2 separate regions of the Homo sapiens genome follow, and region 2 is linked to region 1. Evidence: fine-mapped expression QTL. A gene starts in region 1. The other region holds a variant in brackets. All regions are shown on one strand. Distances are between the middles of the regions.

Region 1 (8,331 bases):
TGTCCGCAGTTGGATGTCTGGGCAAAGCTGACCAATTGAGCCCAAAGTTGGAGTAGTAAATCCCCAAGGGCAAAGCCTCCATTTCCAAGTCTGCTTCTGACCCCTTGTGCTTAAGTCTTCATTTCTTTAAATGACATGGAAACTACATTTTTCTTATGGAATATGTTGCCAAGGAAGCAGAGGTTCTCTAGATATTCCATCCACACACACGCTGCATGCCCCACACACATACACACCATACCACTCAGAAACTTCCACACATGCAATAGACAACACACATCACACACACACATACACACACACACACACACACACACACACACACACTAGAAATCCTCACTAGCGGGCACCTCCCATCCAGTCAGACCCACAGGACACCCATCTCAACAAATGCTTAAGTTGAGCTCCAGTCCAAAGTCTAATCAAAATCCCACATGAAGACTTAGCAGGATTTTGAACTGGGCAATGTCCCTGTCATTAGCTAGCCATTTCTAAATGCAGAGACCAAACCCACCAAAATATTCCTTAATTCTCCTTCTTGATTCTTTATCTACAGAGACCTCAGCCCACAGGGCTGGGAGGTGGGAAATCCAGGAAGCCAGTTCTTCTGGGATGAGGCCTGGACGAGCAGTCAGAGTACCTCATCCCAGCTCCTCCCTGTAAGACTCTGTGCATGTTGTTTCCACTGTCTGGGCCTCAGTTTTCCCATCTGTGAATGGGATTATTAACCCTTATGCAAATCCTTCTTGGGAGAATGGAATGAAGCATGGCAAAGCCCAGATGCACCTACGGTGCTCCTGTAGACATCCTCTCCACCTTTGAGGGAGGGTTGACCTCAGGACTAGTGGACAGCACACATGAGAGCTAGGTGTGCCCACTTCCACCAGCTATGGCAGGGAATGCCTACCCCCTTCTTGGCATTCCCCACCCCAGCCCAAGCTAGGGCCGGCCTGGTAAACGTTGTCTTCTTAGCCAGCTAACTTAAGCACCTTCCAGGGGCTCTGAGCTCTGACTAGTATTGAGGCAAACGACCACAGAGGGGCCAATCAGCTCTTCTCCGGTTTCCAGCTGTGGGGACTGGAGAGAAATCAATATGCACACAGCTCAGATGGGAGTAATCAAAGCGCCAGGGCTGATGCCACCCCCCTCTTTCTCACAGAGAGGTTTTAAGCCAAGCCCAGCCCTCCTGCATGGACTGGCCCACGAGGAATTCCTGTAACTCCAAGACCAGCAAAAGGAGGTGGCTCAGACTCCCCAATGCCAGCAAGGGGAAGGAGGGAGTGGAGAGCAGATGTTCTTGGCCCAGGCTTTAGACCAGTGGTTCTCAACCCCAGCTGTGCATTGGAATCATCTGGGGAGCTTTTAAAAGCACAGATGCCCAGGGCCCACCCTCAAAGTTTCTGACTTAATTGGCCTGGGGTTCAGCCTGAGCACAGAGATTTTTAAAACATCTCCAGGTGGTTCCAAAGTGCACCAGGGCTGAGACTCACTGAAGTGGGTTCATTTTTTTTTTTTTTTTTTTTTTTTTTTGGAGACAGAGTCTCGCTCTGTCACCCAGGCTGGACTGCAGTGGTGCGATCTCAGCTCACTGCAACCCCCGCCTTCCGGGTTCAAGCAACTCTCCTGCCTCAGCCTCCTGAGTAGCTGGGACTACAGGTGTGTGCCACCACACCTGGCTAATTTTTTTGTATTTTAGTAGAGACAGGGTTTTACCGTGTTGCCCAGGCTCATCTCGAACTCCTGAGCTCAGGCAATCCGCCTGCCACCTCTCATCGGAATCTTTCCCCCAGATCCAAGGGAAGATGGTTTTCTTCCTGCTACACTAAGGGTCAGACAGAGAAGGCATGCTTGGGCATCCCTTGTAAGACAGGGACTGTATTTTGTTTATCACTGTATCCCCAGTGGCCCACCCATGCCTGGCACAGATGAAGGGCTAAATGAACACTAGTGGAATGAAATGTGTGTGAATGAGTGAATGAATGAATGAATCCCATTGCCTCCCACCTCTCGAGTGCCCTAGAACTTTCAAAGTGTGGTCTGCAAACCAGCAGCTTTTCATGACCAGGGAACTTGTTAGAAATGCAGATTATCAGGTCCTGTCCCAGATCCACTGAAAGAGAATCTGCATTTTCACAAGATCCCCAGGTGATTCATGTGCACGTGACCATATCATGAGTTCTCCCGTATATGAGCGGTTCTCCACCTTCACTGCACATTACAACTACCCATGAAAGTGTAGCTAGCCCACCCATGATCTCTGGGAAGTGCTTGTTAAGTGCTCCCAGGTGATTCTGATGTGCAGCCCAGGTTCAGAACCTATGTACCATAAGTCCCTCTGCCACAGCAGCCTCTGTGCAGGCTCAGCCTTGACTCCAGCCTACCTGGGAGACCCTCTCTTGACCATCGTACCCCCTCTTGGGATAAAAGCCAACCTCCCTGCAACCCAGGGACCACCCACTTAGCTCTACAAAGACCTCTGGGACAGACTGCCCCGTTCAAATCCAACCTCCGCTGCTTCCTAGCTGAGCGGCCCTGAGCAAGTCATTCAACTCTCCCATGCATCAGTTTCCCCGTCTGTACAATGGAGCTCATTGGGGAAAAAAATAAACTTACTACATTGGGTTGCATGACGATTCAATGGCTTAATTGATCTAAAGCACTTAGAACAGTGCCCCTTCCCTGAAGTTTTCTTGGCTTCTGTAACAGACTTCCGAATAAAAGAGTTTAGATAAAGAAAGGCCAGATTAAGAACCTCAATCCTGCAAACTCTGCTTCCATGAAGAGAGCAAATGAGAAGAAAAGATGGTGATAGTGTAGGGAAAATTAAGACTGAATGAAAAGGCTTAGCCATCTAGCCTATTTTCATTATTTGTGAAGAAAAATCAGCACCACTGAGTCCTTGGGGTCCCTAGGACTGGAACGATGGCACTAGAGGGAGGACTAAGGTTAACAAGGCCAGTTCCTCCCCCAAAATGCTCCCACTCCAGGAACACAGGCCTGCCTCACTGTGCTCAGGACAGGGGCAGCTCCATTCCTCCACAGCAGAGCTTCTCTGTGGATTCTTCCGTGACCTACACAGGGCTGCCTGGTTTCCAAGCCCTTCCCTAGGGCTCCAAACTAGGGTGTGTGTGTGTATGTGTGTGTGTATGTGTGTGTGGTGTGCTGCATGTGTTGTGTGAGGTGTGATGCGTGTGTGTGTGCAGCCCAGGTTTGGTCTGTGGGAGGGGTGTGTTATGTGGTGTGTGTGTGGTGTGGTGTGTGTGGTGTGGTGTGCATGGTGTGTGTGGTATGTGTGGTGTGTGGTCTGGTGTGTGGTGTATGTGTGGGTGTGGGTGTGTGTGGTGTGTAGGGGTGTGTAGGGGTGTGTGTGGTATGTGGGTGTGGTGTGTGTAGTGTGTGTGGTGTGTGGTGTGTGGTGTGGGGAGTGTGGGGGTGTTGTGTGTAGTGTGTGGTGTTTGTATGGTGTGGGTTGTGTGTGTGTGTGGCGGGGGGTGTGGGGGAGTGTGGGGGGTGTGTATGTGGCATGTGGTATGTGTGTGGTGTGTGGCATGTGTGTGGTGTGTGTGTGGTGTGTGGTGTGTGTGTGGTGTGTGTGTGGTGTGTGGCATGTGTGTGGTGTCTGTGTGTGGTGTGTGTGGCGTGTGTGTGGTGGGGTGTGGGGGGGTGTGGGGAGTGGTGTGTGTGTAGGGTGTGTGGTGTGTGTTTGGTGTGTGTGGTGTTTGGGTGTGTGGTGTGTGTGTGGTGTGTTGGTGTGTGGTGTATGGTGTGTGTGTGTGGTGTGTGGTGTTTGTGTATGCGGTGTGTGTGGCGTGTGTGTGTGCGTGTGTGGTGTGTGTGGTGTATGGTTTGTGTGTGGTGTGTGCGGTGTGTGTGTGTGGTGTGTGTGGTGTGTGTGTGTGGTGTGTGTGGTGTGTGGGTGTGTGGTGTGTGGTGTGTATCTGTGCGTGTGTGGTGTGTGCTGTGTGTGAGTGTGGGGTGTGTGTGTGTGTGTGTGTGTGTGTGTGTGTGTGTGTGTGTGTCGGGGGAGGGGTATACGCAGTTTCCGTGCGGAAAGATGGTGTCTTTCCTTCACAGGGCTGCGCGGGCACCCATCCCCGCTGCAAAGCGCCCGGGCCAGGCGCGGCTTGCTCCGGGTCGGGGCGAGCTCGCTGCCCTCTGCGGCAGACAGCGATGCGCGCTCCCCGCCCCAGCTCCCGGCTCGCCCGGCGGCCCGCGCGCCCTCCCGGTGCAGCATGCGGGCGCTGTGACGTTCTCGGATAAATGCCGTGTAACTGTGTAGGCGAATGAGAGCTAAAAATAAGAACGGAAAATCTATCATTAAGGTATCATTGCGCCAGCGCAGCTATTTGAAGGCTCCCATGGTCCCCGGCGCCTGCGTTTGAAGCCCGCCTTCAGGCTTTGGGGGGTATTTGCAGAAAACTCCCAGCAGCGGCTCGCCAACCAGACCTCAGGGTGCACGGGGGGTGGCGCCGGTAATTATGGCAACTCTCAAAATAAAATAATATAAAATAAAGTAACCAACGTTCACCAACCACCACCCCATCTCACCCCCTGTACTGTCCTCAGGTAGCTGGGGAAGCCGCCGGGAGTGCAGCCGGATGCTGGAATTCAATGTGACCCGGCTGACTATGCAAAGACTAGGACTGGACGCTTTTGCAGCTCTATTTCGCCACCCACCTTCCTCCTTCCACCTCGTATTAGAAATAAAGTGGGGGGGGGGGGCGAGCCTTTGGAGGAGAAAATGACAACTGGCACTTAACCCCAGGTCTACAGTGCGCCGCGGTGGGGCGCAAAGACGCAAACTCCCGGGATGGCGAGCCTTCGGGGTTTCATTGGGTTAAACGAAAATTGATCTGATTTGCTTTTTAACATCCGAGGGAGAGAAGGGGAGATGAGGGGAGGGAGGGCAGGGTTTGAGTGTGTGCGTGTGCGTGTGCGTGTGTGTGTGTCTGGGGAGGGGGAGGAGGCACCAAGTTGCAGCCTGCGCGCGGCTCTGCGCCTCGGCGGGGCTGCGTGCGTGTGTCCCTGTCCGCGCTGCTGAAACGGGCTCTTCGAGGGATCGGCGTCACATGACTCCGCCTGCCCCTCGCCAGCGCGCAGATCGCCAGTCCCTCAGTTTGCCCGGCACCGGAGGAGGGTCGGGCGGCATCTTCCGGGTACTGGGGCTCTGCGGAGCGGAGAAGAGGTTCCAGCGGGGAATGGTATATCTGGATTCAAGAAGCCGCGGCTCGGCGCCAGATCCTGGAGTGTAGATATTTGGGGGGAGGGGAGAGCTAGAGGGAGCGAGCGAGCGAGCGCCAGAGAGAGGCAGCGCGCAGCGCGCACGGACGGGGGGCTGCTGCGCGGAGAAGATGTAAGCGCGTGGGGTCTCGCTGGCCTCTGAGCACCATGCAGAAGGGGATCCGGCTGAATGATGGCCACGTCGCGTCCCTGGGACTGCTGGCGCGCAAGGACGGCACGCGCAAAGGCTACCTGAGCAAGCGGAGTTCGGACAACACAAAATGGCAAACCAAGTGGTTCGCGCTGCTGCAGAACCTGCTCTTCTACTTCGAGAGCGACTCGAGCTCGCGGCCCTCGGGGCTTTACCTGCTGGAGGGCTGCGTCTGCGACCGCGCGCCCTCCCCCAAGCCGGCGCTGTCGGCCAAGGAGCCGCTGGAGAAACAGGTGAGGCGAGCGTCGCGTCCTGACCTCCCTGCGTCCCGGCCGCGGCCCTGGGGGCTCAGGGCCTTCGGCTGGCTGATGGCGCTTGAACTTTGGCCCCTCTACTCTTGGCGCCCTAGGCGCTCTCTGCACCCTCAGCGAGAGGGGAGGCTTGCTCCCAGCCAGGCGAGTGACTGCGGCGGGCAGAGGGGGCAGGGATTGAGGGCGGGGAGTAGATGTGGGCTGCGGCTGCCCTTCGCCGGACGAGCCCCGTGGGAGGCGGGTACAGAGGGGCCGACACCTGGAGATGCAGAGGAAGATGGGGTCCTAAGGACCAGAGACGATGAGTCTGGACACACGTCCAGCCAAAAATGGTGCTCCCAACCCCCACTCCCACCGCCCAGCCCTAATAGCCCCGATCGTCTGTTCTACACCGGGAACGTGTAATTCCCCGCGCTTAGGCATGGGAAGGGCAAGACGGAGGCGTCCGAGCGCTGCCAGCCCTTGCCTCGCCGCAGCTGAGGGCGGAGAGCGGTCTGCGCTAGCTCCTCGGAGTTGGGCTGGGGTTATGGGGCTACACGGGTCGGTTCGGTACCATCGAGCGGTGGTGGGCTCCCAGCTGGCGGCCGCCGGAGCAACAAGCCCAAAGATTCCCAAGGACCGCTCTGATGCGCCGGGGCTAGGGCCAGGGCTGCTGCGGAGGCAGCGGGACGAAGTGGGCGCTTCTCTCCTCCCCCGCCCCCTGCGCCGCCGCCGCCGCCGCAGTCGCGGCTATAGCGCTGCGCTCTGGTTTCCTGAGCTGCAAGGCTGAAGAGCCAGGCCTGGCTCTAACAGGGAGCCCGGGCGGGGTGGGGGTGAGCCTCTGGCGTGAAGGGAGGAGGGGCACCTGCAGAGAGAGCCACCTTTAAGCTTGGTGCGCTTTCCAAAAGCATCTGGTCCAGTCCCTTGCCACTAGGAAGATAAAGCAGATGATAGTGGATCCTAAAATGCCACTGCAGGCAGGAACCTTCCATCCATAGGGCCTAACGGCTGGTGATTGCCTAGATGGGGACACTGAGGCCCAGAGAGAGAAATTCACTTGCCCAGCGTCATGCAAGTTGTTGAGGCCGTCCCAATGTTCTGAAAAGACAACCGAGATCTCAAAAGCCACTGCTGCATGAAGACACAGACTGGTGGTGATTGAATTGGTTGAAATAAAAGCATCGCTTGAAGTCTTCCTCCCAATTGTCAGGACAGAGATCCGAGCTCAGTCTCTCTAGCACATCTCTTCCTTCCCTACCTTCAGCCAATGGGTGTTAGGAGATAGTTTCTGAGGACTGGGAAGTGTGGACAGGAATTTTTGAGGGTGGGTCCCTGGGGATGACAAGCCATGTGGTGAGCAGGGGCTCCCAGATGGAAAGAAGAGCAAAGAGCAGGCAGCTCCTTAAGCTTCAGCTCAAATGGAGCCTGGGGAACTCATGTGGAAGAGCCAGTCCCAGGCCAGACTAGAGAATTTGCTCTCAGCCCTTCAGAACTTGCCCCTCTCCAGCCAGTGTCTACCCATATACCCATACCTACCCGGGGCCTGCAGCCCAAGCCCCAGCCCCAGCCAGATCCCCCCTCCATCCCTCAACCCACTACACTAGATCACAGAGCTGAGCTCCTGGGTAGGCAGGAAGTGAGGGGTGGGGGAAGCCAAGTTGGCATGGGCTCATATTATCTGTTCTCAGCCCCCTGGACGTGAAGGCAGACAGGCCTGAGACTGAATCTCAGCTGTATGACTTCCTGGCTGTGTGACTTCAGTTAACTTGCTGAACTTCTCTGAGTTTCCATTTTGTAATCTACAAAATGAAGATAATAACACCTACCTTTCTGGGGTTTTGAGAGCCCTACATTAAATAATGTATATGAAAGTAAGCGCCCAATACATTTTAGTTAGATCTAGACGAATCACAGTTGAATCTGAATTATACCCACCTGGACAGAGCTATTTAGGTCACCAGATGTTAAAGTCGAACAGAACCTCAGAGATACAGCCTTCCCATTTTACAGACCAAGAAACTGAGAGGCAAAGAAAGGGAGTTACCCAACAACGGGGTAAATCAGTGGCAGAATCAGACCTAGAATTCATCCAATGCCTAAGAATTCCTGAAAATGAGACCCTACATTGATTTCAAATCATCCAACTCTTGGCCCAGGTATTGAATCATCCTAGCAGTAGATCATGGGAGGAACATCAGTGCAAAACTAATTGATGAGATGCACTCATGTTCAGAGCTGTTTCCCCAGAACACTACTAGTCAGAGATCCTCAGGTTTGTTCACGAGAGCAGCCCTCCTGGCACAAGAGAACAGAACCGGGTTAAAAGTAGCAGATGATGGTCTGGCGCAAATTTCTGTTAAAGACTCATACTTAAATCACATATGTTTATATAGGTTCCATTTGCCTCTAGACCAACTTTGACTCCTGTGGAAAACTAGATCCTGCTCCTTCCGGCTACACATGTGTACAAAAATTCATCGCTGTTTCTTTTCTCAATCTTTGAGTAAAATCGATGGTGCCAGCAGCTGCTCCATGTTTCTCTTTGACTTGGGTGCCCCATGGCATAAGCCACAGAGCCTAGCATGATAGGTCTAACTCCAGGCCATTCTGTGACCAGGCTTGAGCCTACGAGAAGCTTTGGCTCAATCTGCTGGGCATGTACAGAGTGCC
Region 2 (8,331 bases), 87 kb after region 1:
CTTTTAGTGTTGACTAAAGGAAAAATGATCAACTTTTAAAGAATTCAGGTTTGTTTTCTTCAGAAGCCTTCCTGAGGACTGTAGACGGAGGCCAGCAGCCCGGGAGCCACCCTTCTGTGAGGTCCTATCAGATATCAGCACAGTGTTTCAGCCCACTGCTTAAATGCAGGTGGGGGGCTCAGCACCTGCAGAATCACATCAGACTTGCTGAGAAGTGACACTGAAGCAGAATCACATCAAGGTTTGGGCCTGAGAGTGCGTCTGGTTAGAGATGACAGAGGTGTCATCACTAACCTTATCAGACGTCATATTATGTTTGGGAAAGGCAAAGACGAGGGTCATTTATCTTGTAGGGAGAATAGAGACTCAGGCAAGAGACCTGGGAGGCCATGTGCTCTGGCCTGCTTTGTCCTCAAAGCATCTTTCCGGAGCGCTGCACATCGTCACGGAGTCAGGGGCCTTGTGGAGTCATGCCAGCAAGCAGAAATGAGCAGGCGTGGCTTCTCTCGTTTGCTACTTTGTCTCACGGTAGTGAGAGGTCCCCTCTCTGTCCACTCTGTGTTGCTTCCATTTTCTGTCATTTCAACCTCTTTGTCCTTCTCTGAGTTCTAGGGGACTTTCTCAAATGTGTTTAATAGACCACTCAGATTTTCTGAGTGTCCGATCTGCCATTTGCTGCATCCGTCCCAGCCTTCAATTTAGCACTCTTGTTTTTCATGTCCAGGAAATCCTTCTGACCTTGGATTACTCCCTCTTCATGGTTGCTTCTCAAGGTCCCATAGATGCAGTGTATACTTTCCTGAATCTTGGTGGAAACCAAATCAGGAGTTTTCTAAAATGTTTTGTGTCTTGCAGCAAAGCTAACTTAGAAGGCAGCATTTCCTCGGTTTCTTTGGAATGCTCTCTTTTTGAACTGCAGTATCTTTACGGGCCCTGTGCTTTTCCCATATTGTTCTCATCCTAAAAAGAAATCCCACTGCCCTGCTCATTGAAGGCACTCGATAAAGTTTATTTATTTCAAATCCCAAGAATGCTTCCAAAGAAAAGTATTTAAGAAAGACAGTGTGAAAGGGATGCTATGTCCATTTGCTCACTTCCTCTGAGCACTATCTGCACTCCTAGGTAGAAGATACCCTCGAAAGAACAGGTGAGCCAGGTGCGGTGGCTCACGCCTGTAATCCCAGCACTCTGGGAGGCCAAGGCAGGTGGATCAAGAGGTCAAGAGTTTGAGACCAGCCTGGCCAACATGGTGAAACCCCATCTCTACTAAGAATACAAAAATTAGCTGGGCGTGGTGGCGCATGCCTGTAATCCCAGCTACTCGGGAGGCTGAGGCAGGAGAATCACTTGAATCGTGGAGGCAGAGGCACTCCAGCTTGGGTGACAGAGCAAGACTCCATCTCAAAAAACAGAAAAAAAAAAAAAGAAAAACTAGATAGTCTGGGCACAGTGGCTCACACCTGTCATCCCAGCACTTTGGGAGGCCAAGGCAGGAGGATTGCTTGAGCCCTGGAATTCGAGACCAGCCTGGGCAACATGGTGAAACCGTGTCTCTACCAAAAAATACAAAAATTAGCGAGGCATAGTGGCATGTACCTGTAATCCCAGCTACTGGGGAGGGTAAGGCAGGAGGATCACTTGAGCCCAGGAGAGCAAGGCTGCAGTGAGCCATGATCACACCACCGCACTGTACTCCAGCCTGAGCAAATGAGACCTTATCTCATTAAAAAAAAAAAAAAAAAAAACTAGATACGGCCATCAGCATGTAAGTAATAAGGACAAACAAAAAATAAAGAAGTAAATAAAAAGAAATGAGCACTATATTTGATTCTAAGATTCTTGGTAGTCAAAACAAAAAGTAAAACATGATTACAAAGACTCACAACATCCAAAAAATGAAAACCCAGAGTTGCCCAAGAGTCCTAATAGCTCCCATTGGATGACCAATAAAAGACGATTCCAGTGGCGTAAGCACCAGAGGGCGCTGTGTGGTACAGCAGCCTTCAGGGCCACTGGTTCCCACTATGCCCTGTAGAGGCTGCTGACCTCAAGTTCACAAGCAGCTGAAACAAGACCCCTGCAAGTTCACCCCATCTTAGCCCCTTTGTTCTGGCTAACTGCACTGGACACCTGTCCTTACATCTTGACAGCTGCTAGCAGATCAAATAGACCACATTTTGTTTTTCCATGTATCAGCTGATGGACACCTGGGTAGTTTCCACTTTGGGGCTATTACAAATAATGCTGCTAAGAACATTCATGTACACATATTTTTTTTTGAGGCAGAGTCTCGCTGTGTCACCCAGGCTGGAGGGCAGTGTCACAGTCTCGGCTCACTGCAACCTCCATCTCCAGGGTTCAAGCGATTCTTGTGCCTCAGCCTCCCTAGTAACTGGTATTACAGGTATGGGCCACCACACCTAGCTAACTTTTGTATTTTTAAGAGAGACAGGGTTTCGCCATGTTGCCCAGGCTGGTCTTGAGCTCCTGACCTCAAGTGATCCTCCCACCTCAGCCTCCCAAAGTGCTGGGATTACAGGCGTGAGCCACTGCACCCCATCCACATACACATTTGTGTAAACAGAGTTCCTTACGTCTTGTGAACTCAACAACAAATGTTTTTAAATTTGTAATACTTCTCCAGTATTTCTAGGGGTTTTATAATGGAGAGTTTTTAGGATATTGGGAAAAAGAAGTTGTAGCCCTCCTTCAGTGTCATCCTTCCCAAGCTTGTTCTCTTAATAAGACCATCCTGTGTTGTCAGTGTGTGGGGGAAGCAGTGATGAGCAGGCCTGGTGGGTGCCATTCAGATGCCTTTAGACCCACATCACCTCTGCATCCTTCCTCCCCTCTCAGGTCCGACGCCTCCTTATATTGTGATGATGTTGACATTCGCTTCAGCAAAACCATGAACTCCTGCAAAGTGCTGCAGATCCGCTACGCCAGTGTGGAGCGGCTGCTGGAGAGGCTGACGGACCTGCGCTTCCTGAGCATCGACTTCCTCAACACCTTCCTGCACTCCTACCGCGTCTTCACCACCGCCATCGTGGTCCTGGACAAGCTCATTACCATCTACAAGAAGCCTATCAGTGCCATTCCTGCCAGGTGGCTGAGGTGCCCTCCTCCTCCCATGCCCGGAGAGCTTCCAAGCCTTGGAGGAAAACTGAGCTTGCACGGGGCCGGGGGGTGACCTGGAAGGTCCCTGGAGGAGCAGCAGTAACGTGTTGGGGTGCTGCGGGACACACACCGCCACTGCCCCCTCTCCCCAGGAACCAAGCCTCCCTCTGCAGAGAGGCAGGGACAGCTCACCTGCCTGGTGCTACTGCTCAGTCTCAGCTGCTTCCATCTCCACCTGCCAGGATCCTGGGGTGTGGAGGGTGCTCTCACCTCTTAGCCCCGCTCCTGGAAGCACAGGGTCCCACCGTCACCAAAGGACAGTGCTTCCTTTGGTGAAAAAAGAGAAAGGAAATGAGGAGGGGAAGGAGGACAGAAGGAGAGAGGGAGAGGGAGAAAGAAAAATAAAGGGAGAGAGGAAGGAAGGAAGGGAGGGAGGGAGGGAGGGAGGGAGGGAGAAAGGACTCTTACCCCTGCTTTGCTTAGACCACCTCCTACTCTAAGAAATGATGGAGCCCTTTTTGGCCTACTTGGGGTGAGTCAACATAAGGAGTGCAGGCCACCTTAGCCTTTGCTTCTCAAAAGTCATGGGGCAATGAAGGACTTGGCCAAGGCTGTCCAGCAGTAGGCCAAGTTCAGGGATTGGCTCAGGCCCCTAATGGACTTCACTGCATCCAGGAATGGTAGGTGATTATCTTTTCCGAGAGGCCACCTACCCAGATCCCAGTTGTGGACAGCCCATCCCAGCCCTCAGAGGCTCAGAGGCTCTCTGAGTGCCCTGCCCCAAAACACCCTAGGCAAGACATTATGCCAGAGCCTCAGCTCTAGGGCTGCCTGGAGCAGAGCTCCTGAATCACACTGGCTCCCCAGGGCTCCCCAGGAACCTCACCATTCCTCCCCCAATCCACACCTCTGCTGCCAGAGCAACGCAACGACCCAGAATACACCCGTTCCCTCTTCTGTTCCCTCCTCCTGCCCCCACCTCAGGCCTCACTGGGGCAGGGTACATCTTGCCTCTCTGCCCTGAACTTCTGAAACCTCAATGATCAGATTCCCAGGGCTCTGAGAAAACAGAAGCAAACATCCCATCCAGGATGGATTTACCCCCTAAAAGTCACTGAGATCATTCCCAGGGGCCCAGCAGACAGTGTCCTTCCTTTCCCAGCAGCAGTGCCCTGCAGAACAAAGAGGCTGGTTCAGAGCCAGCTCTCAGCCCTATGGCCTTGGCTGAGTCCCTTAACCTTTCTGAGACTCAGTTTCCTACCTGTGACATTCCTGCAGTTATCCTGTAGGAATAAGAGTGCCTACGTCCTGGGGCAACAGTGAGGGTTAAAAGATCAATCCTATCCTGTGTGCAACGTGGAGCAGACAGCCTCGATGAGACAAGCTATGGTTTGCAATGTTCTGGATGTATAACCTGTTTCCAGCCTGGCCTGAGGTGGAACCCTGTCATGAGGATGGTAGGGGCCACTTTCAGCTTCCCATCCCCCTAAGTTTGCATATAGGGCCGCTCAAGCCCCAAAGCAGGTGGAAAGGACCCTGCGTTTAGAGTAGGAGGCATCAGATGAGTCATTTCCTGTCTCTGAGCCTCAGCTTCCTCATTCCACAAAACATGCCTGAGGACCTCTCTAAGGATGAGGCCAGAGAGTGTAGGCGGGAGCAGGCCCTGTGTGGGATGGAGGGGGGTTTTGCACAGTCCGCAGCTCAGGGGACCCTTAGCACTTCAGGTCAGATGCTGCAGCTGCTGCCCTGAGGGGGTGGGGGGGCGGAGCATAGAAGCCCCAGATCCTCTGCCCAAACCATCCAGAGCAGGACCCTTGGCCCCAGGCCATTTAATCGCATTGTCCCTGCTCAGAGGATCAGCTCAAGT[A/T]TGGGTTTCAGGGATCCTAAGAATGATGGAGCCGTTGCTGCCACTCCGAGCCCCACCGGAGACGGCCCCCAGGCCTAGGCGGGCAGGCAGGCCTACGCTAACTGTCATTTTCACCCCCGCCCTCCCCACAGGTCGCTGGAGCTCCTGTTTGCCAGTGGCCAGAACAATAAGCTCCTGTACGGTGAACCCCCCAAGTCCCCGCGCGCCACCCGCAAGTTCTCCTCGCCGCCACCTCTGTCCATCACCAAGACATCGTCACCGAGCCGCCGGCGGAAGCTCTCCCTGAACATCCCCATCATCACTGGCGGCAAGGCCCTGGACCTGGCCGCCCTCAGCTGCAACTCCAATGGCTACACCAGCATGTACTCGGCCATGTCACCCTTCAGCAAGGCCACGCTGGACACCAGCAAGCTCTATGTGTCCAGCAGCTTCACCAACAAGATTCCAGATGAGGGCGATACGACCCCTGAGAAGCCCGAAGACCCTTCAGCGCTCAGCAAGCAGAGTGAGTGGCCATGCCGTCGGAGCTGCCCCCCAGCCTCCCAGCCCCACTGAGGCTCAGCCTGGCCCAGCAAGGCCTCAGGGCTGCTCTTCCTGCTCCCATGGGGAAGGAAGGGAGAGGCTTGGGGGTCCCACCAGGCAGATAGTGGAGGCAGCACAGAGTCTGGGCGGTGCAGAGAGGTAGCCGTATGTGGGAGCCCAGGCTGCGGGGGGAGGCAGGCAGAAATTCCCAGGGCATCGCCACACTTTAGATGAGTCAGTTCCCATCACGAGCAATTTAGGCATCCCTCTGCCCTGACCACAGCATCCTACGGCATCCCTGTGTTTGTCCATGTCTGCAGAGGACAGGGCCTGGGCCAGGCCCATTCAGGGCCCGGGAGAGAAGAGGTCGTCAGCAGCTCCTGCCCCCTGGGATTCAGTCTGGCTGAGGACCCAGACCAGACACTGAAATGTGGACACCTGATACGAATGGCTTGTGTCAGGAGGATGCTCCAGGGGCACAGAGGTTGGGGTGGGAACACCATTAGGAGCGTCATAGAAGGCTTCCCGGAAGAACTGTTCGATCTCAATTTTTACCAAGAGGAAAGGAGAACATTCTAGACCATGGGAACAGGATGGGAATGACTGAGGAGCAAGAAAAGGCCTTGTGTGTTTCGGGGACAGCTGGACGCCAGGCAGACCTGGAATGCTGAGTGTGAGACAGGCTGGAGATGATTCCAGGACAGGCTGGAGCCTCCCTACTCTCAGGGTTTCTCCTGACTGTTCTAAAAGTGTCAGGTCTGGTTCTGATTTAGATCCGAACAGGCCACATCTTGGGTGCCACAAGCATTGTCTCGGTTAGCACATGAGAGCACGTGCACACACGCACGCACCCACGTGCAACCAGGGGCTGGTCAGACGCCCCAGGCTTTGAGGAGGAGGCCTTTGAAGAGGGAAGGATTTCTCTCCTCTGAGCTGGCAAGAGGGAAGGCAGAGGGCACCCCCAGCAGAGGGCACAGCTGGGGCAAGATAAATCCTCCGCCAGGCTCCATACCAAGTAACACTCACCGTGGCACATGCAGTTAATGGGTGATGCATGCAGCTGAAAGTCAGTCACCAAGGAAATGGCCTGCCAGAAATTTCATAATTTCACATTCTGAAATGTAACGCAAGGCAGTCCTGAGAAGTCATCTGGTACCAGGCTTCTTGACTGGTGATCCAGGAGCCCATGAATCTAATTATGTGCCAAACTGTGTGTGTGTGTATATGTGTGTGTATGTGTATTTGTTATGTATAAATGTGTGTGCGTGTGCATGTGCCTGTGGACATTCTTGTCTAAAGAGAAGACCTGTGGCTTTGTGTTCTCAAGGTCAGATGCAACTACATCCACTTTCTACGTGGGTAAACTGAGGCCCAGAGCAGTTAAGAGTTTCTGACCAAGACCTCACTGTGCCAGACCTAGGCTTTTAATATAATTCATCAGCCTCCCCAGGGTGTGTGGACCAGGAGTCTCCCAAGATTAGGAAGCCTCTATAATTAATTATCCAAGACAGGACATTTTAAGAGTGACCAGGGGCACGCGGCAATAGGTTAAAAGCAGAGGAAAACTGGAGCAGATGGTCACCTTAACTAATAAGCTTCACCAAAAAAAAAAAGAGAGATCGTGTAACTCAAAGTGTGGTCCGTGGACCAACCACATGGCCATCACCTGGAACCTGTTAGAAATGCAGACTCTCAGGCCCTGCCTGAGACCCCTGAATCAGAATTTGCATTCTGACAAGATCCCCAGGTGTGTCTGGTAAGGTTTGAGAAGCCCTGGTGGAGCAAAAGCCACCTTGGAGATCGACAGTGCTCATTAGCAAGAGAAAGGTTCTGATGAGTCCTGCGGGAAACAAAGCTGTTAAACTTTCTTCAGTGGCTGTATCCCAAGTTTACTCTGTTTTGCCTCAGTAAATTATAGACATAAATTTTAAAATCAAATATTTAAATTTTAAAATTAAAATTAAGAAAAGTAAAATTATTTATTTCTTTTCTCCCAGGCTCAGAAGTCTCCATGAGAGAGGAGTCAGATATTGATCAAAACCAGAGTGATGATGGTGATACTGAAACATCACCAACTAAATCTCCAACAACACCCAAATCAGTCAAAAACAAAAATTCTTCAGGTACAATGCACCAATTCAAAACCACAAATAGATTTCCAGTTTGGGAGAGGGCAGTAGGTCAAGTCGAGTCAAGGCAAGTGGGTGTCATCCCTTATGCTTTATGAGTGACTCCTAAGAGCAGTAACTTTTCTGATATTTCATAACCCACCCACCACCACCCGCCCCCCGCCACCCCAAGGGAAGGGGCTGTGGGCACTGGAACATTGGCTGGGTAGATCCTGCTCTTCAACTCAACCAAGTCACTCTCCCAACTTCAGACAAGACTGCCTTGAGCCCACCCAGCACAGGTGGGCAGGGAGGCTCAGCATCTAGGGCTCATTCGTGGAAGATCCTGATTCAGAAGGTGCTTCCTGAACCCCAGCACAGGTGGGCAGGGAGGCTCAGCATCTAGGGCTCATTCATGGAAGATCCTGGTTCAGAAGGTGCTTCCTGAACTGAGTGCCAGGCTCTGCACAGACCCCTTTCATCATCTTGACAGCTTTGCAAAAAGGCTAGGTGTTTCAAATAAGGGGAAAGACTCCAAGAGGCGGTGACATTGCTCACCCGCAGTCCCAGACTCCTGATCCTGAAGGATCCTTGAGAAGCAGTCTTGGTCTCCGGTTTTCATAAAGCCCTTTCCCCTATACAAGGGGGCTGTGAGATACCCAATGGTGAGAGAGAGCTCCCAGGGGACCCACCTCCCAGGCAGCCCCTCCCCACACA

Alleles and levels. Positions count from the first base shown, and alleles are read on the strand shown. Sizes are in standard deviations (SD) of each study's normalised expression.
For the expression in monocytes after Pam3CSK4 of the gene that starts at base 5,107 in region 1, allele T in region 2 goes with a lower level than allele A (moderate effect, 0.55 SD a copy in Quach 2016).

The links.
Region 2: its variant is fine-mapped to the expression of RASGRF1 in monocytes after Pam3CSK4 (Quach 2016, PIP 0.95).

What each region holds. Positions count from the first base shown.
Region 1 is chr15:79,087,556-79,095,886 of GRCh38, reverse strand. It overlaps RASGRF1 (Ras protein specific guanine nucleotide releasing factor 1), which reads left to right and starts at 5,107. Exons shown (of 27, transcript NM_001145648.3): 1 at 5,107-5,664. The coding sequence starts at 5,389.
Region 2 is chr15:79,000,960-79,009,290 of GRCh38, reverse strand. It overlaps RASGRF1 (Ras protein specific guanine nucleotide releasing factor 1), which reads left to right. Exons shown (of 27, transcript NM_001145648.3): 14 at 2,857-3,105; 15 at 5,116-5,489; 16 at 7,504-7,629. It overlaps LOC105370917 (a long non-coding RNA gene), which reads right to left. Exons shown (of 3, transcript XR_932519.4): 2 at 3,310-3,402. Among named protein-coding and RNA genes, the nearest start is that of CTSH, 60 kb to the right of the region's middle. RefSeq lists a silencer at 1,870-2,164 and enhancers at 2,601-3,436, 4,365-5,564. The variant A/T (reference allele first, on the strand shown) is at 4,985.